Homo sapiens: one gene and its partners. The protein of the gene in region 3 interacts with the protein of the main gene of each other region in a biochemical or structural test. Each region holds a gene or a part of one and is shown on either strand. Other genes may lie near its edges.

Region 1 (7,885 bases), on a different chromosome or scaffold from region 3:
GAAGTTGTAAAGCACCACTCACCTGTCTCCTGGAAGAGGGGCGTCTTCCGAAACCAGGTAGCACCAAAGTCCTATTTACACCCCAAATAGGAGCTAAGCAGCTAGGAATGCAGAAAACACAATAAGTGACGTGCCTGGCGTGGGCTTTCCTGTGTGTACTTTCCTCTTACATTTCTTTTTTTTTTTTTTTTTTGAGACAGAGTCTCACTCAGTCACCCAGGCTGGAGTGCAATGGCGTGATCTCTGCTCACTGCAACCTCTGCCTCCTGGGTTCAAGCAATTCTTCTGTCTCAGCCTCCTGAGTAGCTGGGATTACAGGTGCCCACCACCACACCCAGCTAATTTTTATTCCATTTTTAGTAGAGACGGGGTTTCACCGTGGTGACCAGGCTGGTTTCGAATTCCTGACCTCAAGTGATCCGCCCCCCTCGGCCTCCCAAAGTGCTAGGATTACAGGCATGAGCCACCACGCCCAACTTCCTCCCACATTTTTTAAGTCCGTGGCCCAGATCTTCCTCCCTAACTTTCCTGGGATCAGATTGTCGAGGGGTTTTGCCTCTTACCAAAAGGCCTTGTTTAGCGCCCAGCGCCCTCACTCTTGACTTTGTTTCCCAAAATCTTGTCATGGAGCTGTGCGTCCGGCAGTCCTCGGGAAACAGCAGCTGTGGGAAGCGGTGGGTCTGGTGTCCAGCACTGTGCCTGGGCCAGTCACTGTGGGCTGGTGGGGCCGCCCCCGCCACTGCCCTGATTCCTCGATGTCAAGGACACATCCTCACAGGGTGGTGAACCCTCGCTCCTCACCCTGCCGCCCCCACAGCAGCCACTGACCTCCCACCCACCCTGTCGTGTCCCACCCAACCCTGCGGCCCCCTCCTCCCAGGCAGGAGATTTTTTCAGAGTGTGTTTGGGGAGGGAGCCGTCTGTGTGCTGGGCAGGCCTGGCCTACAGCAGTGCTGGCCTCGGAAACACCCAGGACTCAGGATGGAAGCGCGAGTGTTCCCAGTCCCCACACGCTAAAAAGGCGACAAGAACTTGTGGAAGAAATTTTAGTGTCTGCATTAGCTCAATTATCTCACATAGGATTTCAACATATACTTAATATAAAATGCCTCATGAGAGAGTTAAAGTTTGTCTATTCTCACAATGAGATTTTGAAATGCGCTGTGTATTTTACACGTGCCAACGTTTCTAATCAGAGCCCCATTTCAAGTGCTCAGTAGCCCCTTTGGCCAACCTTCAACTCCATGGGACAATGTGGGTCCAATGACCTTCCCAGCAGAAGGCAGACAGGGGACAAGGCAGACCCCATAGGACCAGGCCACAGCAGGGGCTGAGGATGCCCGGTTAACGGATGCCTGGGGAACAGGATGCCAGAAATCACACATGACCTATGATGAGACAGGAAAAGACTCAATAAAATAAAGAAGGAAGGGGCCGAGTGCAGTGGCTCACGCCTGTAATCCCAGCACTTAGCGAGGCTGAGGCGGGCGGATCATGAGGTCAGGAGTTTGACACCAGCCTGCCTAACATGGTGAAATCCCATCACTACTAAAACTACAAAAATTAGCCAGGCGTGGGGGTGTGCCCCTGTAGTCCCAGCTACTTGGGTGGCTTAGGCAGGAAAATCGCCTGAACCCAGGAGGCAGAGGTTGCAGTGAGCCGAGATCTTGCCACTGCCCCCCAGCCTGGGTGACAGAGCAAGACTCTGTCACTCAAAAAGATAAAGAGGAACGGCCAGGTGCAGTGGTTCACGCCTGTAATCTCAGCACTTTGGGAGGCCAAGGCGGGGGATCACGAGGTCAGGAGCTTGAAACCATGCTCGCTAACTCGGTGAAACCCCATCTCTACTAAAAATACAAAAAATTAGCCAGGCGTGGTGGCGGGCGCCTGTAGTCCCAGCTACTTGGGAGGCTGAGGCAGGAGAATGGCGTGAACCCCGGAGGCGGAGCTTGCAGTGAGCGGAGATCGCGCCACTGCACTACAGCATGGGTGACAGAGCGAGACTCAGTATCAAAAAAAAAAAAAAAGAAAGAAAAAGAAAAGAAAAAATAAAGAGCAAGGAGAAGGATGGAAGAAGGGAAATTCAATGAGTAAAAAGCCCTGGGGCCTAGTATGTACCCAAAAAAATGAGAAGTAAAGAAAATAAGGCCATGCATGTGGTTTATGCTCATAGTCGCAGAGTTTTGGGAGGGTGAGGCAGGAGGATGGCTTGAGCCCAAGAGTTCGAGATCAGCCTGAGCAACATGGTGAAACCCAGTCTCTACAAAAATTACAAAAAAATTAGGCAGGCGTGGTGGCACGCACCTGCAGTCCCAGCTAATCAGGAGGCTGAGGTGGGAAGATTCCTTGAGCCTGGGAGGTCAAGGCTGCAGTCAGCCCCAGATCGCACCACTGCACCCCAGCCTGGGCAACAGGAGAGACCCTGTCTCAAAAATAAATAAGGAAACGCCCTGGGGCTCCAGGCCCGCCCTCTGCTCCCATCGCCCCACCCCTGCACTCCTCCTGCTCCTAGTCTGAGCTCCCCTGCCCTCCTCCTCCTCCTTCCCCAGGTGGATCCTGAGACCCATTGTCATGCAGAAAGGTGCTTCCTCTCTTGGTTCTGTGACGACATACTGTCTCCTAACACAAACTACGAGGTCACCTGGTACACATCTTGGAGCCCTTGCCCAGAGTGTGCAGGGGAGGTGGCCGAGTTCCTGGCCAGGCACAGCAACGTGAATCTCACCATCTTCACCGCCCGCCTCTACTACTTCTGGGATACAGATTACCAGGAGGGGCTCCGCAGCCTGAGTCAGGAAGGGGCCTCCGTGGAGATCATGGGCTACAAAGGTGAGACGTTGGGGGGCTGAGGAGAGTGGGTGCGGGAGGGACAGCATGAGGGGCAGGTGTGTCTGCAATGCCGTGGGGCGGGGCAGTGTCCCGGGAAGCCTGCAGGGATGGCGCCAGTGTCCACTGCAACTGGCAGTCAGGAGACCTGGGCTTGGAGGGGAGGGCCCAGGGCTGGGAGAGAAGCCTGCTGGGCCCTCACTGCTTTCTCCTTGTTTTTTCTCAGATTTTAAATATTGTTGGGAAAACTTTGTGTACAATGATGATGAGCCATTCAAGCCTTGGAAAGGACTAAAATACAACTTTCTATTCCTGGACAGCAAGCTGCAGGAGATTCTCGAGTGAGGGGTCTCCCCGGGCCTCATGGTCTGTCTCCTCTAGCCTCCTGCTCATGTTGTGCAGGCCTCCCCTCCATCCTGGACCAGCTGTGCTTTTGCCTGGTCATCCTGAGCCCCTCCTGGCCTCAGGGCCATTCCATAGTGCTCCCCTGCCTCACCACCTCCTCTCCGCTCTCCCAGGCTCTTCCTGCAGAGGCCTCTTTCTGCCTCCATGGCTATCCATCCACCCACCAAGACCCTGTTCCCTGAGCCTGCATGCCCCTAACCTGCCTTTTCCCATCTCCCCAGCATAACCTAATATTTTTTTTTTTTTTTTGAGACGGAATTTCGCTCTGTCACCCAGACTGGAGTGCAATGGCTTGATCTTGGCTCACTGCAAACTCTGCCTACCAGGTTCAAGCGATTCTCCTGCCTCCGCCTCCCGAGTAGCTGGAATTACAGACGCCTGCCACCACGCACAGCTAACTTTTTTTTTTTTTGTATTTTTAGTAGTGACTGGGTTTCACCATGTTGGCCAGGCTGGTCTTGAACTCCTGACCTCAGGTGATCCGCCTATCTCAGCCTCCCAAAGTGCTGGGATTACAGGCGTGAGCCACTGGCCCGGCGGCACAACCAAATCTTATTAAACTCACCCTAGGCTGGCCGCGGTGACTCATGCCTATAATCCCCCAGCAATTTGGGAGGCAGAGGTGAGAGAATCGCTTGAGCCCAGGAATTCGAGACCAGCCTGGGCCACATGACAAAGCCCCATCTCTACAAAAAAATTACAAAAAAAAAAAAAACAGGTGTGGTGGCATGCACCTGTAGTTGAAGCTACTTGGAAGGATGAAGTGGGAGGATTGCTTGAGCCGGGGAGGTGGAGGCTGCAGTGAACTGAGATCACGTCACTGAACTCCAGTCTGAGCAACAGATCGAGACCCTGCCTGAAAATAAATCAATAAATAAACTCAACCGAAATGGGTATGAAAGTTGAAATGGGTATGTAAGTTGAAAACCAGAAGTTTTGAGAAACATCCTTTGTTAACTTTCATCCTACAAATTGGGTCATTCATGTCCTACGCAGCTAAAACAGAGCCCAGGAGCCAGGGAGGAAAAGCAGTCAGGCCACACACCATTGCTCCCAAAATGGACTTCTCTGCAAGCCTGACTCCTGAAACTGTGCATTGTACCCTGAAACCAGCTTTATCCATAGCTTCTGCAATAAATGGCTGTAAGTCTTGGACTCCTTGCTATAATCGCAGCTATTCAGCAATGGAACCTCCCAGTTCCCAACCCTTCCTAGTGCCCATGGGCTTTCCCATAGGACAAGAGAACATTTCTCCTTTTCTTTTTTTTTTTCTTTGAAATGGAGTCTCGCCCTGTCACCCAGGCTGGAGTGCAATGGTGCGGTCTCGGCTCACTGCAACCTCTGCCTCCCTTGTTCAAGTGATTCTCCTGTCTCAGCCTCCCGAGTAGCTGGGATTACAGGCGTCCACCACCAAACCAGGCTAATTTTTGTATTTTTCATAAAAACGGGTTTCATCATGTTTCCCAGGCTGGTCTTATTTTTATTTTATTTTTTGAGATGGAGTCTTGCTCTGTTGCCCAGGCTGGGGTGCAGTGGTGCAATCTGGGTTCACTGCAGCCTCTGCCGCCTGAGTTCAAGCTATTTTCCTACCTAAGCCTCCCAAGTAGCTGGGATTACATGCGCGTGCCACCACGCCTAGCTAATTTTTGTGTTTTTAGTAGAGACGGGGTTTCAACATCTTGACCAGGCTGGTCTTGAACTCCTGACCTCGTGATCCACCCGTCTCGGCCTCCCAAAGTGCTGGGATTACAGGCGTGAGCCACCTGGCCAGGCTTAGGCTGGTCTTAAACTCCTGACCTCAAGTGATCCAACCTCCTTGGCCTCCCAAATTGCTGGGATTGCTGGTGTGAGCCACAGCGCCTAGCCCATTTCTCCTTTTAATAGGACCTGTTGCTGTCTCTGTTCTCCCAACATGGTGAACACCACCCGGACTGCGTGTATGTCCCAAATTACAATTCTTTCTTTGCAAATGAAATGTGAAATTTAGAGGCCCTTCTCCACACTTTAAATTTGACTTGACATTTTCTAGGCAGATATAAGTTATTAGAGAATGAGATTCTCTATAAAAATGATCCCTTCATGCTGTGGCCTCCACAGAAGATGCCCTGGGCCAGGTGCCCACATGAATAATGCGGGCCACAGGCAGGCATTTATTTTCTCACAGATATGGAGGCTACAAGTCCAAGGTGGAGGGGTCGGCGGGGTTGTTTGCTCTGAGGCCGCTCCTCCTGGATGGCAGGGATCCCTTCTGGCTGTGTCCTCTGTGGCCTTTCCTCTATGAACCTGTACTGTACCTCTGGGGTCTCTCTGCTTCCAAATATCTTTTTTTTTTTTTTCAGACAGTTTTGCTCTTGTTTTCTAGGCTGGAGTGCAATGGCACAATCTCAGCTCACTGCAACCTCTGCCTTCCGAGTTCAAGCGATTCTCGTGCCTCAGCCTCCTGAGTAGCTGGGACTACAGGCGTGTGCCACCACGCCTGGCTAATTTTGTAGTTTTAGTAGAGACGGGGTTTCTCCATGTTGCTCAGGCTGGTCTTGAACTCATGAGCTCAGGCGATCCACTCTCCTCAGCCTCCCAAAGTGCTGGGATTACAGATATAAGCCACCATACACAACTTTTTTTTTTTTTTGAGATGGAGTTTCACTCTGTTGCCCAGGCTGGAGTGCTAAATAGCAGAATCACTGCTCACTGCAACCTCTGCCTGCTGGGTTCAAGCAATTCTCCCACCTCAGCCTCCTGAGTAGCTGGGATTACAGATGCCCAGAACCAATCTCTGCTAATTTTTCTATTTTTTAGTAGAGATGGGGTTTCACTGAGGAAGGAGACCACCTCTCTCATTGTCTCCTATTTCAGAAGGAAGCAAAAAGTTAGAAAGATGCAGAAGTAAGATCAATGGCCAGACTGTTTGGCGCTGCTACCTGGGCCTGGTAGTTAAAGATCAACTCCTGACCTGACCGCTTGTTTTATCTAAAGATTCCAGACATTGTATGAGGAAGCATTGTGAAACTTTCTGGTCTGTTCTGCTAGCCCCCACCACTGATGCATGTAGCCCCCCAGTCACGTAGCCCACGCTTGCACAATCTATCACGACCCTTTCACGTGGACCCCTTAGAATTGTAAGCCCTTAAAAGGGCCAGGGACTTCTTCAGGGAGCTCCAATCTTCAGATGCAAGTCTGTCAACGCTCCCAGCTGATTAAAGCCTCTTCCTTCCTAAAACTGGTGTCTGAGAGGTTTTGTCTGCAACCGTTCCTGCTACATCACCATGTACATTCCAGGCGAGGCTGGTCTCGAATTCCTGACGCCCACCTCTGCCTCCTAAAGTGCTGGGATTAAAGGCATGAGCCATGGCACCTGGTCGACCTTCTCCTTTATGGACCCCAGACAAATTAATTTGTGCCCACACTAGAGGTCTCATTTAAATTAATCATCTTGGTCGGGCGTGGTGGCTCACGCCTGTAATCCTAGCACTTTGGGAGGCTAAGGCAGGCAGATCACTTGAGGTCAGTGTCACACGTGTCCATGTGAAGAGACCACCAACAGGTTTTGTGTGAGCAACAAGGCTGTTTATTTCACCTGGGTGCAGGTGGGCTGAACCAGAAAAAGGAGTCAGCAAAGGGTGGTGGGATTATCATTAGTTCTTACAGGTTTGGGATAAACCTATCCCAAACCTATAAGTGTACATTCTTAAAGGCATACAAAGTACATTCTTAAGTGTGGGGGAGAATATTACAAAGTACCTTCTTAAGGGCAGGGGAGACTATATGGTATCAGTTGGGGTGGGGCAGGAACAAATCACAATGGTGGAATGTCATCAGTTAAGGCTATTTTCGCTTTTTTTTGTGGATCTTCAGTTGTTTCAGGCCATCTGGATGTATACATGCAGGTCACAGGGGATATGATGGCTTAGCTTGGGCTCAGAGGCCAGACATTCCTGTCTTCTTATATGAATAAGAAAAAACAAAATAGTGGTGAAGTGTTGGGGTGGCGAAAATTTTGGGGGGTGGTATGGAGAGATAATGGGCGATGTTTCTCATGGCTGCTTCAAGCGGGATTAGGGGCAGCGTGGGAACCTGTGGTGGGAGAGATTAAGCTGAAGAAAGATTTTGGGGTAAGGTGATATTTTGGAGTTGTTAGAAGGAGCATTTGTCGTATAGAATTATTGGTGATGGCCTGGATGCGGTTTTGTATGAATTGAGAAACTAAACGGAAGACACAAGGTCTGAATAAAAGAAGGAGAAAAATAGGTTGGTTTTTTTTTTTTTTTTTTTTTTTTGAGACAGAGTCTCGCTCTGTTGCCCAGGCTGGAGTGCAGTGGCACGATCTCGGCTCACTGCAACCTCTGCCTCCCTGGTTCAGACGATTCTCCTGCCTCAGCTTCCTGAGTAGCTGGGACTACAGGTGCACGCCACCACGCCCGACTAATTTTTTTGTATTTTTAGTAGAGAAGGGGGTTTCACCATGTTAGCCAGATGGTCTCAATCTCATGACCTCGTGATCCGTCCACCTCAGCCTCCCAAAGTGCTGGGATTACAGGCATGAGCCACCACACCCAGCCAGAAAAATAGGTATTAAAGGACTAAGAATTGGGAGTACCCAGAACATCTAATTAGACAGTGTCCAAGGGGGTTCAACATAATTATTTGCTTGGTTGGT
Region 2 (9,276 bases), on a different chromosome or scaffold from region 3:
CCCAGCCCTCTCTCTGGGCCCAGCCTGGACACCTGCCCGCTCCCTGGGCTCCTTCCCCTGACTGGGCCTGTCCTGGGTCTCAGCCATGGCCTTCCCTGGGCTCCCTCTCTAGGAGGTGGACTCAGGAAGGGGTGGACACAGGGCTGCTCCCGAGGGCCCCTGACTGCACGTGTGTGGTTCCTTTCCAACAGGGAGACTGGCTGCTGGCTGTCCTCTTACTGCTGGGCCTGTCCCTTCCAATCAGCGCCCAGGGCTCTGTGAGTGAGAGTGGGCGGGGCTCTGTGAGTGAGGGTGGGGTCTGCATTTAGGTTCCTCTCCTGTGAGGTTTAGCTGAGTTTTCTGGCTCCAGAGGGATGTCGTGTGACCTTTCCCGGCTACAGGTCCGCTACACAAGGAAAGACATCTACACATTTGCTAGTGTTTATGGAAACACTTGCAATTCATGATACAATCACACAGGGAAACATATACAGAAAGATTTAGTATTTCATTTTATTCCTCTACCTACAAAACCGATTCAAATTGTCGCTGGATTAGTAGGTTTGAAACTTTTCTGTGTATTGAGCACAATCTTAGTACTTTATTCTTGAAATATAAATAAATTTTTGATTCAAAGTAATGCACTCTAATTTTTAAAAGAATCTACTTGGTCAGGAGTGCATTGCTTTGCTGGTGTCTGTGATCAGCTGGAGATGGTGGTGAACAGCCTGTTTGCATTTCTTGGAAGAAGATCTTTTATTCTGAGGCTCAACCCAGGTCTCTGCCTTCCTTAGAGACTGAGGCCCATCCTTCAGTTTTCCTGATTCTGGAAGAGCAGGGAGGTTGAATGGAGCAAAGGGTGAGCGAGTGGAAAGTAGGCATATGGTGGAGGCCTGGGGACAGTGACAATGATCGGAGAGGAGGGAGGGATGTGGGAGGTGGGAGAGAAAGGGAGGCTGTGAGAAGGAAAGGGAGGGACAGAGACAGGTGCCCTGGGGGAGCAGGGAACCCAGAGGAGGCTCTGAGCAGAGGGGAAGGCACGGCGCAGGGGAGAGGGGAGGAGGGGGAGGCCGATGGGGCACTGGGCAGAGGGAAGAAGCCCTCACCTGGAGAATGGCCCGCAGCCTCCCACTCAGGTCTTGGCTGTGCTCATCTAGTCCATCCCAGGGCTGGAAGGGACATCCCTGGTGGTCCACAAAGGTGTCCCAGCAGTGCTTAAATTCTGAAAAGGGACAGGGGAGATAAGTCACACTCCCGCTGTGGGATCGTGGTGGCACCAAAGGCCCATGACTCTCAAGACAGACTTCCCACATCCTGGTTTCAGTCCCTCCTTTCCCTCTCCCTCCCCTAGGGACTTAGCTCCTTCATCAGGCACTTCTTTCCTATTGGAATCTGGGCCAGCCCAGTTCTCATTTTTTCTGGAAGCCCCAAGTTCTGCTTCCACTTCCAGCCACCCTCCCCGCCCTCCCCAGGTCCACATCTCCTGGCCTGGCCTCTCTCTTCCCGTCGACCCCAAAGTCAGGTCCAGAGTGCAGCCATCGCCTCTGCAGGCAGAGGATCAAGGCCTTTCCCACAGGGATGCCGACCCTCCCCACTTTCTAGTAACTTCCCGGGGCCCTCTCCTGCCCTGGCTGACCCCATCCTACTCCAGGCTTCCATTCTCACCACTGTATGTCATTATTGAAATTTTGGCCCCAGCCTCGGCCAGGGTGCGCAGCCCCTCCTGACATCTTCCTTGATCATCATAGATGCGGGCAGTGAAGATGCACAGGCTCACGTGTTTGTTTTTTGAAATGAATTTAGCCATTTCCTGGGCACAGCTGAAGCAGGGGCTCCAGGAGGTGAAGCAGGTAACCCTGTAGTCCTGGTCCAGGTCCAGCTTCCAAAAGGGAATCACGTCCAGGAAGCACAGCTCTGCATGGCGGCCTTCAAGGAAACCGTGTTTATGTGGAGCCTAGAAAAGAAAGCAAGCCATGAGGTAATCTTTTTTTTTTTTGAGACAGAGTTTCACTCTTGTTGCCCAGGCTGGAGTGTACAAGTAGCTAGGATTACAGGCATGCACCACCACACCAGGCTAATTTTGTATTTCTAGTAGAAAAGGGGTTTCTCCATGTGGTTCAGGCTGGTCTCAAACTCCCAACCTCAGGTGATCTGCCCTCCTCAGCCTCCCAAAGTGCTGGGATTACAGGCATGAGCCACAGCGCCCGGCCGAGGGAATTTTTAGTGAGTCAGGAGGGACAGCCTGGATCAGGGTGGGTGCGGGGCAGCCTCCAGCACAAAATTAGACGGGGGCACCAAACCCCAGTTATCAAGATGACTTTTCTTTTCTTTTCCTTTCTTTTCTTTGAGACAGAGTCTGGTTCTGTCACTCAGGCTGGAGTGCAGTGGCGCCATCTTGGCTCACTGCAACCTCCACCTCCCGGGTTCAAGCGATTCTGGTGTCTCAGCCTCCCCAGTAACTGGGACTGCAGGCATGCACCACCACGCCTGGCTAATCTTTGTATTTTCAGTAGAGACGGGGTTTCACCATATTGGCCAGGCTTGTCTTGAACTCCTGACCTCAAGTGATCTGCCCGCCTCAGCCTCCCAAAGTGCTGAGACTACAGGCATGAGCCACCACACCTGACCGGATTTTTACAATAATCTATTAAATAATTTAATTTTCCATTACGATGAGATTTCTCTGATACTGAGTATTTGGAGCATCCTCTCATTCTGCACATGAGGTCAGTGCCTTCAGGACCCTCACTCCGCCCCAGGCCTGCAGGGAGGGGCTGTAGAGCTGGGGGAGGGAGGACAGATGCCACTGAGCTGCGTGTGCTTCCCTCATGGGGAGGCTGACCTGTCTACCCGTCAATTCCCCTTGCCCCACCCCTTCTGTGACCTATAATTCTAGAAGCTTCCACATTGTGCTTTACCCTGTATTAAGCCCACGAGTGACATAGACTGAGGCCAGAGGGCTCCCTTTGCAGGGAGAAGTGGGGATGAGGGGCCCCCAGCAGGACTAACCCCACATTGGGAAGGGCCCCAGTCATGGGGTGATTGTCCTTGTTGAGCCCAAGGAATGATGGTGTTTTGTCCAAATTTCGACTGGGAACTAGTCAAGCCCAGGAGTCCAGTGCAGAGAGGACTCGGGGTAGAATGGATGACACGATTTGTGCTGAGAAGGGGCTGTGGGTCATTCCTGGGGGAGTCCCATCCCACTGGTTAGACAGTGATGGGGACCGGTGCCTTTGAAAGTAGCTTCCAAGCAGTGTGTGTGGGCCCAGCAGGGCCCATATTAAGCTCATAGAGCCCAGAGGAACCCCGTTTCCAGCACCAGAGCCAAGCAGAATTTGGCCTCTCCAGCCAGGGGCTGTGCTGGGCAAGGGCGAGGGAAGAACGTCCCTCGGGCTCAGGGCCCCTCGGCCTGGCCTGGCCCAGCTCTTCTTCAAATGCTGGCCATCCCTGCATCCTGACTTGGGGCCTGTTCTGGCCTTGCTGTGGGCTCCATCCTGGTCAGGACAGAATCCCTGGTCGGCCTCTCCTGCCTCAGTCTCTTTTCCCGCAGGATGAAGCCCAGGAGCAGGCACTGGGGAATCCTGGCCTTGTGAGGTCAGGTAGGCCCTGATCCTCAAATCCCACAGTTCTGAATCATTCCTGGTGGGAGCTGTGTCTGTGAGGGGATCCTGGGAGGGTCCTCAGGAAGCACTTTTTTTTTTTTTCTTGAGACGGAGTCTCGCTCTGTTGCCCAGGTGGAGTGCAGTGGCACGATCTTGGCTCACTGCAAGCTCTGCCTCCCAGGTTCATGCCATTCTCCTGCCTCAGTCTCCTGAATAGCTGGGACTACAGGCGCCTGCCACCACACCTGGCTAATTTTTTGTATTTTTAATAGAGATGGGGTTTCACCGTGTTAGCCAGGATGGTCTTGATCTCCTGACCTTGTGATCGCCAGCCTCGGCCTCCCAAAGTGCTGGGATTACAGGCATGAGCCACCGTGCCCGGCCGGAAGCGCTTTTTCTTTGATCCCACTTGGCCCTGGTGCAGACCCTTTTCCTCTGCCCTGACCCTCTCAGAGCACAGCAGGAGTGGGGACGGCTGAGACCTGGACCTGGGGGTGACTCTGGACTAGTGGTGTTAGCCCCTGAGACATGTGGCTGGTTAGGCGTGTGGGGCTGGAAGCCACCAATCCTGGAGAGTCACTGAAGCCGAAGTCTCCCCCAACCCCAGGGCCAAGCAGCAGCAGCTACAGGAAGCACAGGTGACAGACACTCTGCAGGACACCACAGGTACCACCCAGAACCTTCTGCCCATGGGTGTCCCTGGGTTGGGAGGGCCCTGCCTGGATGCGGGTGGCTGGGTTGGTCACCTGGTTGCATAGAAAGCCCCTGCGCTGGTTCAGCAGGACCCAGGTGTCATTGTGCATGCGCTCCACCTCATAACACAGGTAAGTCTCATGCCGTCCTCTGACCCAAGGTTCATTGTTAAAGTTGAAAGTGAATGTGGGTGGATCCATCGAGTGTCTGGAAAGTGGGGGAAAAGCCCAGAGGAGTAAGAGCCCTCCTGGTCTGTCCCACCTCCCCCTCCCTCTCCACGCTTCCTCCCTTGCACCCCACCCTCCTTCCTTCCCCCGGCTCCCCACATCCCTTAGCACCTGTCAGAAGGGGCTCCCACTCACTTGCTAGAGCCTCCAAACCTCCCCCTCTGACCCCTTCTGGGGCTCACTGGGAGATCACGGCAGCCCTGGGGCCTGTCTAAGCCTTGTCAGGGTCTCCCCAGGGTCAGCTCAGTGTGCTCAGGCCCTCTCCCTGGGGTACAGCTGGGTCTTCTTCCCTGGCCTCACCATAGACCCCAGTCCTGGCTCTGCTCGCTCTCAGTCCTTGCTGGAGGTGGACCCACTGGGGCACCCCTCCTGCCTACAGGGTTAACTCTTGCCACACCCAGCATCAGGGCAGAGACACTCCTGAGCGGGACCAGCGGGGAGAAGAGCCTGCCAGGGAGTTTTTTTGTTTTTTTTTAAATAACTCACAGGATTTCTTCTGTTGCCAAAAATACCTGTCCTTACAAAACCACAATTATAAAGGTAAAAGTGAATTATTAGCACCCAGTGCAGAGGCATTTCCAAACCAGAAACACCAGATCTTCACCCTGGAGTGGACAGAGGGGAGGATGCCACCTTTGATAGGACTCTGCAGAGCCCAGCCTGGAACTGGGAAGATTCTGGCTGGGGAAGCCACAGGCATCAGCTGAGGGGTCATGTCCGGACCCCAGAGAGGCCCAGAGAGAGGCTGAGAAGAGGAGCAGCCCGGGAGTGGGGGAGCAGGGGAGCCTGTCGGGGGAGCTAAGGAGGGGCTCAGGAGTGTTGGGTGCAGAAGGAATGGGGTGGGTGAAGCACACAGGAACATCTGGGTGGAGGGGCTGTGAGAGTCAGGTCAGGACTCCCCTGGGAAACAGACACACAGGACAGGAACCCCTGCACTCCCCACCCAGGCCCGCCCACAATGACTGCAGCTTCTTGCCGTGGCCTTCACTGTTTCTCCCCAAAATCAATGTATTGAAGCCTTAACCCCCGCTCCCTCAAAGGGTGGCTGTATTTGGAAACAGGTCCTTTCTTTCTTGTTTGTTTGTTTGAGAAGAAGTTTCGCTTTTTTGCCCAGGCTGGAGTGCAGCGGCGCAGTCTGGGCTCACCGCAACCTCCGCCTCCCGGGTTCAAGCGATTCTCCTGCCTCAGCCTTCCGAGTAGCTAGAATTATAGGCGCCCACCACCACTCCCGGCTAATTTTTGTATTTTTGGTAGAGATGGGGTTTTAACATGTTGGCCAGGCTGGTGTCGAACTCCTGACCTCAGGTGATCCACCCGCCTTGGACTCCCAAAGTGCTGGGATTACAGGCATGAGCCTCTGCACCTGGCCTGGAGACAGGTCCTTTCATCAGATGATTAACTTAAATGAGACCTTCAGTGTGGGCCCAAATTCACATGACTGGGGTCCATAAACGAGGAGGACATTTGGAGGCAGAGAGACCCCACGAGTGCAGGTGCACAGAGGAAAGGCCAGAGAGGACAGGGCCGGAAGGGACCCCCTGCCAGCCAGGAGGAGCGACTGCAGAAGACACAACCCCGCCCACCCCTCCACCTTGGACTTGCAGCCTCCAGATGTGTGAGAAAATAAATGCCTGCCCTGTGGGCACCCAGCCCGGCCATCTTCTATGGCAGCCGAAGCCTGAAGCTCTGTTTCCATGGAGGCAGCTCCTTCTCAGGGGCTCAGGTTGGCCTTTAAGGATGTTGCTCAAAGCTTCTGACTGCCGGGCTTGTGACTATTCATGCCCACTTACTACGTCCAGTTTTACGACAAATTCGGTTATGCCAGGGAGATGGAAGGGGCCAGGTTGGGGCTCCCAGGCTGTGGGGGTGGATGGAGGTTGCTCTGGAGGCAGAAGGGGCCTCTCACTCACAGGAAGGGCCCAGGAAAGCAGGTGGGAGGCAGGGAGGTGGAGGGAGCACGAGGAGTGTGGGTGAGGGAGTGTAACCACGAGGGCAGGCAGGGGGCAGGAGGGAAGGCAGGAGGGCCTGGCCAGGAGAGGACCTGGTCTGGAACAGAGGGGAGGCCTCAAGAGGATGAGCAGGAGGTGAGAGGAGCGAGGCGATGAGCCTGGAGGGAGACCCTCACCTGAGAATCTCCCCCAGCATGATGTGCAGTAATATATAATATTTAGGCAGATTATTCCAAGGCTCAAATAGCTCTCTTTGGCTGTACACGAACTTGCTCCAACAGTGCTGAAATTCTAAGAAAAAGAAGAGAGAACGCAGTCAAGCCCAGCTGGCCTCTCTTCTGTGACCTCGGGACCCTCCCCTCCCAGACATATTCTAGATACTAGTTACAGTCAGCGCCAGACCCAACCCCACAGGCTCCCCTGGGACACTTGGCCTTTGCAGGCATCAGAGCAGACCCACAGGTATGTGTGGGAAGGACCCATCACAGACACTTAAGCAGTCTCTCCCACACCCCTGAACCTCCCACTTCTCACCGTCATAATTCATGATCTTCATGGTGGCACGCGGACCGTCTCTTTTCTGACACAGGCTGCGAAGCGCCTCCTGGTAATCTGGGTCCCAGAAGTAGTAGAGGCGGGCAACAAAGATGGTCAGGGTAACCTTCGGGTCCTCGGCCAGGAACGTGGCCATATCCCTTGTACACTTTGTGCAGGGGCTCCAGGATATGTACCAGGTGACCTCATACTCCTGGTCACGATGCAGCTTCCTCCACTTGCTGAACCAGTGGAAGAATCTCATCTCTGGGTGGTACTTAAGTTCGGAATACACCTGGGAGAGGAGCAGGGTCAGGGCAAGCTCTGAGAGGGGGAGCAGGAGGAGAGCAGGGGTGGGGCAGGGGGAGGAGGGGCCAGGACAGGAGTCCAGGAGATCTTGCCATTGAAGCTCCTTTCCTCCATCCCCCTGTTCGGTTTGAGTGTTTGTCTGCTCCAAAGCTCATGTTCAGTATTAATTGCTATGGTAATGGCCTTAAGAGGTGGCACCTACAAGCAGCTATGAGGCTGTGGGAACTGCACCTTTGTGGGTGCCACTGCTGTGGTTATTCAAGGGCGACTTCAGCCCCTCTTTCTGTCTCTTGCCCTCTAGCTGGGGGGGCAGTATGTCAGACTAAACTGCTTCCTCTTGCCCCCATGTCACGGAGCAGCAGTGACTCGACATCCCAGGCCACTCTGTCTGGAGCATCCCCTGAGCTTCTGGCAACAACCTTCACCCCCACGTGACTGTGCAGCTCGCAGGCCCTGGAAAGTTGCTGGTGCATTGACAGGGGACTTCCCAGAGTCCAGAACTCGAGCCCATACATTTCTGTTCATTGTAAATGTCCCCATCTCAGTCCTGCTGTTGAAGCATCACAAGGTGCACCAAGACACGTGCTTCCCTGAGTTTGGAAGTTTTCCCAGCCCTGTTCATGGCCTCGTGTGTGAATTCTAGCATCCATTCTCCCAGGCATCCATTCACCAGACATCCTCAGCCCCTACTGTGGCCTGGCCCTCTAGGGTCTGCCTTGTTCCCTGCCTGCAGTCAGTGGGGAGCCCACTGGACCTGCACTGTCCATGTCGGGGGGGGTGACATGGCCAAGGGACTACTGAGTACTTGAAATGGGGCTCTGATTAGAGACCTGGGCACCTGAAAAATACACCACTCATTTCTTTTTTTTTTTTTGAGATGGAGTTTCGCTCTTGTTGCCCAGGCTGGAATGCAAGGATGCAATCTTGGCTCACTACAACCTCTGCCTCATGGGATCAAGCGGTTCTCCTGCCTCAGCCTCCCGAGTAGCTGGGATTACAGGTGACTGCCACCATGCCTGGCTAATTTTTTTTTTTTTTGTATTTTTAGTAGAGATGGGATTTCACCATGTTGCCCAGGCCGGTTTTGAATATCTAACTTCAGGTGATCTGCCCGCCTTGGCCTCCCAAAGTGCTGGGATTAGAGGTGCGAGCCACCCACTGTACGTGACCCACGCAGCTCATTTCAAAGACTCGGTGTGACAAGAAAAAGAAACTTCATTATCTTGTCAAGAATTTTATGTTAATTAATGTTGAAGTAATATGTTAGCCACATTGGATTAATTAAATATTAAAATTAGGCCGGCGCTGTGGCTCACACCTGTAATCCCAACACTTTGGGAGGCCGAGGCAGGTGGATCACCTGAGGTCAGAAGTTCGAGACCAGCCTGGTGAATATGGTGAAACCCCATCTGTACTAAAAATACAAAAAAAAAATCAGCTGGGCGTGGTGGTGGGCACCTGTAATCGCAGCTACTTGCGAGTCTGAGGCGACAGCATCGCTTGAACCCAGGAGGCAGAGGTTGCTGTGAGCCGAGATCGCGTCATTGCACTCCAGCCTGAGCAACAAGAGTGAAACTCTGTCTCAAAAAAAAAAAAGAAAAAAGAAAAGAAAAGAAAAACGGAAACACAAGGCCTTTTGTGCAGAGGCAAACCCCCTCCACGATCCGATCCCAGGACGGTCCAGCAGGAAGGTCAGGGCCACGGACTTGGAAAGTGTGGGAGAGAAGGACACACTGGATAGCCCGCCGCCGGGCACTTCACTTATCAGTGCGTGGTTTGCTTTCCCAGCTGGCTTAGCTCCTGCCTGCAAAGTGATTGGAGTCCGGGTGGTACCTGGCCTCGAAAGATCTTTGCGTCCAAAGGGGGCCTTGAGGGACCCTTTGTTTTCACTTCGTAGCACAGCCAGACGGTATTCCGACGAGAAAGGATGGGTCTATTATAAAAGTTGTAGGAGAATGTGTCTCGATACATTCGCTCCACTGT
Region 3 (9,276 bases):
CCTTTTTCTTCTATTTTAAAAAACACATTTCTTATTTTTCTTTTTCTTTTTTTTTTTGAGACAGAGTCTCACTCTGTCACCCAGGCTGGAGTGCAGTGGCGCGATCTTGGCTTACTGCAACCTCTGCATCCCAGGTTCAAGCGATTCTCTTGCCTCAGCCTCCCGAGTAGCTGGGACTACAGGTGCCTGCCAACATGCTGGCTAATTTTTGTATTTTTAGTAGAGATGGGGTTTCACCATGTTGGCCAGGCTGGTCTCGAGAACCCCCAGTGTTCAGTGATTCGCCCATCTCTGCCTCTCAAAGTGCTGGGATTATAGGCGTGAGCCACTGCGCCTGGCAAATAACACATTTCTATAAAACCTAGAGCTATCCAATGGTTCATAATCAGAATTATGATTCTGCTTTTGCGGTAGCTCACACCTGTAATACCAGCACTCTGGGAGGCCAAGGCGGATGGATCACCTGAGGTCAGGAATTTGAGACCAGCCTGGCCAACATGGTGAAACACCCGTCTCTACCAAAAAAAAAAAAAATATATATATATATATATACACACACACACACACACACACACACACACACACACACACACACATACACAAATTAGCCAGGTGTGGTGGCACATGCCAGTAGCTACTTGGGAGGCTGAAGCACGAGAACTGGTTGAACCTGTAGGGCGGAGGTTGTGAGCCGAGATTACACCACTGCACTCCAGCCTAGGTGACAGAGCGAGACTGTGTCTCAAAAAAAAAAAAAAAAATCCCCTATATGTTCAAAAAATTATTGTTAGATGCTCAAAGAATTACTGCAGTCTAATGGAGAGAAGCCAACCACAGTTTTGTTGGATGAACAATGGCCTGTTGATATTCTGCATTCCATGAGCACATGGGCTATGTGCCTTGTTATATCTGTGTCAAGGCTGCTATGAGAAGCAAAACTTGTCTGAAGTCCTCCTGGTTGTCTAGAACACACATTGTTCTAATAATACCTTATTAGATTTTATATCTGGCCTATTCTGCCTCTTCCAGACCCTGACAATGGTAAATCCTGTTTCCCAGGATTCACTCTCCAGGGATAACTTGGCTTACTGACTTCCCCAAAAATGAGGCTCTTGAATCATTTTAGGGAAGCCAAAGCAAAACCCGGAGACCCAGAGGTTGTTCAATTTTTCTCCTCCTGGGAGCCTTCACCTAATAGTGGCAACAATGCCCTCTCCTTAATTAGCTAGGTGTGCTTGCTACCATTTTAAAGAACAATACAGGCCGGGCACGGTGCCTCACGCCTGTAATCCAAGCACTTTGGGAGGCCAAGGTGGGCTAATCATGAGATCAGGAGTTCACAACCAGCATGGCCAACAAGGTGAAACCCCGTCTCTACCAAAAATACAAAAAATTAGCTGGGTATAGTGGCGGACGCCTGTAATCTCAGCTACTTGGGAGGCTGAGGCAGGAGAATCGCTTGAACCCAGGAGGCGGAGGTTGCAGTGAGCCGAGATCGCACCACTGCACTCTAGCCCAGGCGACAGAGTGAGACTCTGTCAAAAATTAGCTGGGTATGGTGGCATGTGCCTGCAGTTCCAGCTACTCAGGAGGCCGAGCAAGGATAATTGCTTGAACCTGGGAGGTGGAGGTTGCAGTGAGCCGAGATCGCACCACTGCACTCAGCCTGTCAGCCTGGGTGACAGAGTGAGACTCCATCTCAAAAAACGAAACAAAACAAAACAAAAAACCACATTCCCTACGGTTGCCCATATAGGTGGTATAAAACATACAGCAAAGAAAGAGATGGCAGTTTTTTGTTTGTTTGTTTGTTTTTGAGACGGAGTCTCACTCTGTTGCCCAGGCTGGAGTGCAGTGGTGCGATCCTGGCTCACTGCAACCTACACCTCCCTGGTTCAAGCGATTCTCCTGCCTCAGCCTCCCGAATAGCTGGGACTACAGGAGTGCGCCATTGCGCCTGGCTAATTTTGTATTTTTTTTTAGTAGAGATGGGGTTTCACCATGTTAGCCAGGATGGTCTCGATCTCCTGACCTCATGATCCGCCCACCTCGGCCTCCCAAAGTGCTGGGATTACAGGCGTGAGCCACCGCGCCCAGCCAGTTTTTTTTTTTTTGAGACAGAGTCTCGCTCTATCGCCCAGGCTGGAGTTCAGTGGCACAATCTCGGCTCACTGTGACCTCCACCTCCGGGGTTCAAGTGATTCTCGTGAGATGGCAGTGAACTCTGGGTGTCAAGGGATATGGACACCCAGGGGGCTTCTTAGGCACTAGGAATGTGGTGGGTGCTGGGATGTTTGTCATTATTCTTTAAACTCTGTGTCTTCTGCATTGTTCTAAGTGTATGATACACTTCTCTCTCTGATATATACAAAGAAAAAGAGAGCGAAAGAATGTGGCCCCACAGAAGAAATATGCCACTACCCATGGCCTATCTTCGTTTGGCACTGCAGAGTCAATGTTGCTGTCTAAGATCCTGGCATGACCACTCTGATTGAGAGGGCTCCTGGGGCCGGGAGCGGTGGCTCACACCTGTAATCCCAGCACTTTGGGAGGTCGAGGCAGGCGGATTGCCTGGGGTCAGAAGTTCGAGACCAGCCTGGCCAACATGGTGAAACCGCATCTATACTAAGAATATAAAAATTATCCAGGTGTGGTGGTGGGCGCCTGTAATAGCAGCTACTGGGGAGGCGGAGTGAGAATCGCTTGAACCCAGGAGGTAGATGTTGCATTGAGCCAAGATCACACCATTGCATTCCAGCCTGAGCGACAAGAGCAGAACTCCATCTTTGGAAAAAAAAAAAAAAAAGTACAGGCTCGGTGGCTCATGCCTATAATCCCAGCACTTTAAGAGGCCAAGGTAGGCGGATCACCTGAGGTCAAGAGTTGGACACCAGCCTGGCTAACATGGTTAGACCCCGTCTCTACTAAAAATATAAAAAAGTAGCCAGGTGTGGTGGTGAGTGCCTGTAATCCCAGCTACTCAGGAGGCTGAAGTGGGAGAACTGCTTAAACCCAGGAGGTGGAGGTTGCAGTCAGCCAAGATCACACCACTGCACTCCAGCCTGGGCGACAGACTGAGACTCTGTCTCAAAAAATAAAGAAAAGAGGGTTCCTGGAAATAGCATTTGCATAGGCCCTTACAAAGCAAAATTCTCGGTCGGGCACAGTGGCTCACTCCTGTAATCCCAGCACTTTGGGAGGCCAAGGTAGGGAGATCACCTGAGGTCAGGAGTTCGAGACCAGCCTCGAACATGGCAAACCCCCATCTCTACTAAAAATACAGAAATTAGCCAGACGTGGTGGAAGATGCCTGTAATCCCAGCTATTTGGAAGGCTGAGGCAGGAGAACTGCTTGAACCCAGGAGATGGAGGTTGCAGTGAGCCAAGACTGCGCCACTGCACTCCAGCCTGGGTGACAGAGTGAGACTCCTTCTCCCAAAAAAAAAAAAAAGAAACTGTCAGGGGCTCCTGTTGAGCATCAAAGCAGCTGCGTAGAAGACCCACTTGGACATATTTTCTACTTGAAGGGATTCTGTTTCTTCAGTTGACCTGGCCGGATGGCATACATGGGTTCTAGCTATGTAAATTATTCCTGATGGATGAAGGAGGTCTGAAAGGCTAAATCAAAACCCCCACTAGAAACTTTGTAAAACGGCAAGGGAAAACCATTATTTTACTACTTCTGGTAAAGGTATCTACAACGTAGCACAGATAAGCCCCAAGCTACTTACCTGCCTTGGCAAAAAAATGAAAGCAACACCCTGAAATCATCTTCTTGGATAACTGAGGATCATGAGGTTTATCCCAAACTTGACTTCTGACTATATGTGTTAGCAAGATAGCAGTGGGATTATAAGAGGGACCAAAAAACAGAAAATAAAAATAAAAAGCTACTTTATGCCAGTTACTGTGACTGTTAAGTGACTGAGGTTCTTCTATGTTTTGTCATTTCATGGCAGAAGTACTCACTTAAATAGTAACGGAGACCCAACCACAAGAAAGTGCCACTGGGCCTTACACACCAAGCTTGGAACTCACCGTGTTTACATTTGGAGCATTGCTGTCAGAGGGAAACAGAAGAAAACACGTTAAGGGCACACTGACCAAAGCTTCCATGTCACACATGCAAACTGCAGAGGCTTCTGCTCACCATGTGATTGCAGCCTCCATTCTTCTCAATGCAGATGTTGCACTTGGGACACTGAGGAGACAGAAGGGTGCCATTAGGCTCACACACCACCAGGTTGGTTTTAAGACAAATTACACAAAGCTCCTGGCACCTGTGCCCAGTTGCTCATGGTGTGAGCACTTCTGGGGAGGAGCACCTCACTTAAATGTGGCAGGTCGCTGAGGCTGGAACAGCAATTCAAGGAAATGAGGTCAGCACATTTAGCTTTGAAATGCTTCAAGCACCAGCTGAACCCCACTAAGTCTTCCACCATCTGCCCCTGCCATGAAGCTACTCAGATTAAGCACAAGTTGAATCAGCAGAAAGCCTGCCTTCTTGAGAGGACTGCCAAAGAAGCACAGGAGCTGCCACAATGGATTCAGTCCTGGTCAGCTTGCCTGAACTTCTGCTTCGAGAAGAGGGCAAGGAAACCACATCTAAAGCTCATCTCTCCCATTTGAGAGATGCCAGCAACCTGAGGCAGCAATGAAGACACCAGTCTGATGCTGTGATCTCCCACTGCCGTGAAGTCGACTATGTTTAATAATGTCGTTATCGTAACTGTGCTTGTGAGTGCACTGACTCGGCGAGTGACTGACAAAGGGTACAGTGGCCCCTAGAGCCCACAGGCCATACTTTCCCATGGGAGACTTCAAAATGAGTATCGTGCAGGTCTGGGCTTGCATTACAGCCTTATATGTATCAAGTGTGGCTATTAACCACCTCCCTTTCAGGGCTGTTAAAGGCTGGTAGGCGTTCAATCATAATTAGTTCTCTTCTAATTAGCTCCCCCTTTGGGTCCCCCTTTCCTGGCATTTTGGCATTTCATCATAATAAAGAAAATATGCACCCAATGCATCCTATAATAAACTGCTACGAGCTGCCAACTCTGTGTGAGGGTCCCCAAACCCCCAGTCCTCAGGAAGGGTCCTGGGGCTCTGGGTATTCTGCTCTCAGATGGCAAATCTCCAAGGCAAGGCCCTGGGCAGCACTAAGGAGGGCAAATCCATGAGAGGTAAAATACGGTCCTTACGTCTTTAGTGTGAGCACTAATGTAGTTGGCTGTTTCAGAGTCGTCTGCACACTTCGTGAGCCATTTCCGGATTGTGGCACAGTCTGTGGGTGCGTGATACATCTGACGACACTTGAAACTTAAAATTGGAAAAGAAAAACATTCAAATATTCATTAAGTCAGGGTCCCATGTTCAAAATTTTCCTTTTATCCAAGCCAACAAATCATGAATTAGAGCTTTTTTCTTTTTTTTTTTTTTTTTGAGACAGAGTCTTGCTCTGTCGCCAGGCTGGAGTGTAGTGGCGTGATCTCGGTTCACTGCAAGCTCTGCCTCCCGGGTTCATGCCATTCTCCTGACTCAACCTCCCGAGTAGTTGGGACTACAGGTGCCCGCCACCATGCCCGGCTAATTTTTTGTATTTTTAGTAGAGACGGGGTTTCACCGTGTTAGCCAGGATGGTCTCGATCTCCTGACCTCGTGATCCACCCACCTCGGCCTCCCAAAGTGCTGGGATTACAGGCGTGAGCCACCGCGCCCAGTCTAATTTTTGTATTTTTAGTAGAGATGGGGTTTCACCATGTTGGCCAGGATAGTCTTGATCTCTTGACCTCGAGATCTGCCCGCCTCAGCCTCCCAAAGTGCTGGGATTACAGGCGTGGGCCACTGTGCCCGGCCTAGAGCTTTTCAAATAGGTAAAGTTATCTCTCAAGGCTTGTGGAACCTTTACCTACCCAGAGTTATACTGAAATACTGCATGAATGTCTCTTCAACTTAAGCCTTTGTAAGACATGCTCTAACACGCACAAATAAAATATTTCTGTAGGCCGAGTGCAGTGATTCATGCTTGTAATCCTAGCACTATGGAAGGTTGAGATGGGAGGACTGCTTGAGCCCAGGAGTTTGAAACCAGCCTGGGCAATATGGTGAGATCCCATCTCTACAAAAAATGAAAAAATTAGCCAGGTGTAGTGCTATGTGTCTGTAGTCCCAGCTACTAGAGAGTCTAAGGCAGGAGGATTTGCCTGAGCTCTGGAGGTCAAGGCTGCAGTGAGCTGTGTTCGCATCACTGTACTGCAACGTGGACAACTGAGAGAGACCCTGTTTTTTAAAAAAAGGATTGCTTTAGACCAGGAGTTTGAGACCAACCAACCTAGGCAACATAGGAAGACCCTGTCTCTACAATTTTTTTTCTGAAATGGAGTTTCGCTCTTGTCACCCAGGCTGGAGTGCAATGGCATGATCTTGGCTCACTGCAGCCTCTGCCTCCCTGGTTCAAGTGATTTTCCTGCCTCAGCCTCCTGACTAGCTGAGATTACAGGCTCCTGCCACTATTCCTGGCTAATTTTTGTATCTTTAGTAGAGACATGATTTCACCATGTTGGCCAGGCTAGTCTTGGAACTCCTGACCTTAGGTGATCCACCCGCCTCAGTCTCCTAAAGTCACAGGGGTCCTAAAGCTGGGGTCACAGGTGTGAGCCACCACACTTGGCCCCTACAACAAATTTAAAAAAATTAGCTGGGCATCTGTAGTTTCAGTTACTTGGGAGGCTAAGGCAGAAGGATCACTTCATCCCAGGGGTTTGAGGCTGCAGTGAGCTATGATATGTATGTTAAATACCTTGTTTAAACATCTTGTTTACCAACTCCCAAGATGTCAAACACAGAGCTATGACTCTCAAAGGGCATGGTGAGGTGCTCTGAGAAGGACTCCTTAGCTCAGACCTAAGGCAGGATTGAGACCCACTTCCGGGAGTCTCATCGGATCTCCCAGTCAGATATGCACACAAGAATGCACAAATGCCAGAACGTGCAAAATCTGTAGGGTCATGATACATCTGATGACACTGAAACTTAAAACAGAAAAAAAAGACACTCCAATATTCGTCGGGCTAGGCTTCCATATTTTGAAATTTTCTTTTGTGGAGGCCAACAGTACTTTGTGGCTAGAAAAGGCCCTCAGGCAAATACCCAGGGAAAGAATTTCATAAAGTGGGACACAAGGATAAAGAACAATTACAAGGAGTCTTCTGAATCTGCTGTGATCCTGGGGGCTGCCGGATTTAAAATGAAAGAACCACTGCATTAGTGATTCTTAACCTTTGGTGTCAATAATGTCTTGAAATGCAGGCATGTGCGTACACACACACATCACATTTTCCATGTAGTTTCTCTGAAGCCCCACCATGAATATTCCAGGGAGGTATGATTAGGACAGATCTGGGCCTAAATTATGGCTCTACGATTTACTAGGTTTACCTTGTACCTTGATTTATTCATAGAATATAAGGGTCATGGCTAGGCGCGGTTGGCTCAATCCTGTAATCCCAGCACTTTGGGAGCCCAAGGCGGGCAGATCACGAGGTCAGGAGTTTGAGACCAGCCTGGCCAACACAGTGAAACCCTGTCTCTACTAAAAATACAAAAATTAGCTGGGCATGGTGGCACATGCCTGTAGTCCCAGCTACTCAGGAGGCTGAGGCAGGAGAATCACTTGAACCTGGAAGGCGGAGGTTGTGGTGAGCCAAGTATGTGCCACTGCACTCCAGCCTGGGCTACAGAGAAAGACTCCGTCTCAAGAAAACAACAAAAAAAGAGAGAATATAAGGGTCATATACAGTTGTGATAATGCAGGGTAAGTGATCAGGATAGTGCCTGTCACCTGGTAAGCCTTCGGTAAACTTTAGTTATTCCCATGGTATCTACTGAATGAAGTGAACCTTGAGTAGATGTAGAATATATTTATGACTTAGTTTAACAAAAATTAGCCAAGTAAGGCCAAGACAGAGAAAGATTAAAATGTTCAAGTTTATATCTTTCAAACACAGTAATATGTGATTAGCTATGCAGGCAGATACATCCCACACAATCTCTGGGCCATGAGACCTAGTAGCATAAGCCACAACACATTTTCCAAGAACCTGTGTCACTTCCTTGCCTCCAGACTGAGCATGTATTGAAGACCTAGTGGAATATGAGATGCTGGACATAAACCTACCCACTTGGAGCACAGCTGTTCTGTTGGCTCAGAGACCCTGCCTCTTCCAGTGCCGCCCTCACATGGAGCAACAGCAGTGGTGCTTTGGAGGATGGGGCATGAGCCCAGGGCTGCTCAGCACTCACACTCACTCTTACCAGAAGACCTCGTTGCACCGATTGCACTGTACTCGGCGAGCTCTAGGCTCCTGTACCCGAATAACCATGGGGCAGTCTGCACCAGGGCACAGCTGGAGCTGGTAATGACTCTGTGAACACACCAAGAGGAAACAATGAGGACATCTCTTAGTTGCTGTCTAAAAATCAGAACCCCCTGAATATTCAAACACTTTCTGTTCTCCCAGCTGATGACTTATACGAAGGGGCTATATAAATTCAGAAAGGATGTGAAGACCAAACGTAAGCCAGATATTAAAGAGGAATTTAGAACGTTTAGCTTAAACCAGGTAGCAACTCACTGGAATGATCTAAGTTTATATAGAATTGCACCAGGCATAGTGGCTCCTGCCTATAGTCCTAGCTACTCAGGAGGCTGAGGTGGGAAGACTGCTTGAGGCCTGAAATTTCAGGCTGCAGTGAGCTGATTGCACCGATGCATTCCAGCCTGGATGACAGTGAAACTCTGTCTCTGAAAAAAATAAAAAATAACAAGGCCGGGCGCGGTGGCTCATGCCTGTAATCCCAGCACTTTGGGAGGCCGAGGCAGGTGGATCACCTGAGGTCAGGAGTTTGAGACCAGCCTGGCCAACATGGTGAAACCCTGTCTCTACTAAAAAACACAAAAATTAGTTGGGTGTGGTGGCGCGAGCTTGTAACCTCAGCTACTCAGGAGGCTGAGGCTGCAGAATCGCTTGAACCTGGGAGATAGAGGTTGCATTGAGCTGAGATCGTGTCCCTGTACTCCGGCCTCGGTGACAGAGTGAGACTCCATCTCAAAAAAAAAAAAAAAACATATATCTGAGGAGCTCAATGACCCTCAAAGGCAGCAAACAGCATAAAGAACAAGGCCTTCTGTTTATCCTGCGGCATGTGCATGACAAGACCCAGACCATAAATTAATCTGAAAAGCTTAGGCAAAAAAGACAAAGATGAAAGTTATGC

What was found.
Region 1: of the proteins of ARIH2 (region 3) and APOBEC3F, one has a biochemical effect on the other in vitro, tested with the Homo sapiens proteins (one study listed by BioGRID).
Region 2: of the proteins of ARIH2 (region 3) and APOBEC3G, one has a biochemical effect on the other in vitro, tested with the Homo sapiens proteins (2 studies listed by BioGRID).

The regions. Positions count from the first base shown.
Region 1 is NC_000022.11:39,049,525-39,057,409, forward strand, and holds the end of APOBEC3F (DNA dC->dU-editing enzyme APOBEC-3F), read left to right. Parts: coding exon 1-57; intron 58-2,549; coding exon 2,550-2,829; intron 2,830-3,052; coding exon 3,053-3,171; 3' UTR 3,172-6,448; downstream 6,449-7,885.
Region 2 is NC_000022.11:39,078,936-39,088,211, reverse strand, and holds the end of APOBEC3G (DNA dC->dU-editing enzyme APOBEC-3G), read right to left. Parts: coding exon 9,127-9,276; intron 7,280-9,126; coding exon 6,985-7,279; intron 6,742-6,984; coding exon 6,627-6,741; coding exon of another isoform or gene 6,623-6,626; exon of another isoform or gene 5,037-6,622; intron 4,482-5,036; coding exon 4,328-4,481; intron 1,934-4,327; coding exon 1,645-1,933; intron 1,202-1,644; coding exon 1,086-1,201; intron 806-1,085; coding exon 791-805; 3' UTR 469-790; downstream 1-468.
Region 3 is NC_000003.12:48,969,742-48,979,017, reverse strand, and holds part of ARIH2 (E3 ubiquitin-protein ligase ARIH2), read right to left. Parts: intron 8,424-9,276; coding exon 8,314-8,423; exon of another isoform or gene 8,177-8,313; intron 5,320-8,176; coding exon 5,202-5,319; intron 4,354-5,201; exon of another isoform or gene 4,202-4,353; coding exon 4,151-4,201; intron 4,061-4,150; coding exon 4,039-4,060; coding exon of another isoform or gene 3,970-4,038; intron 1-3,969.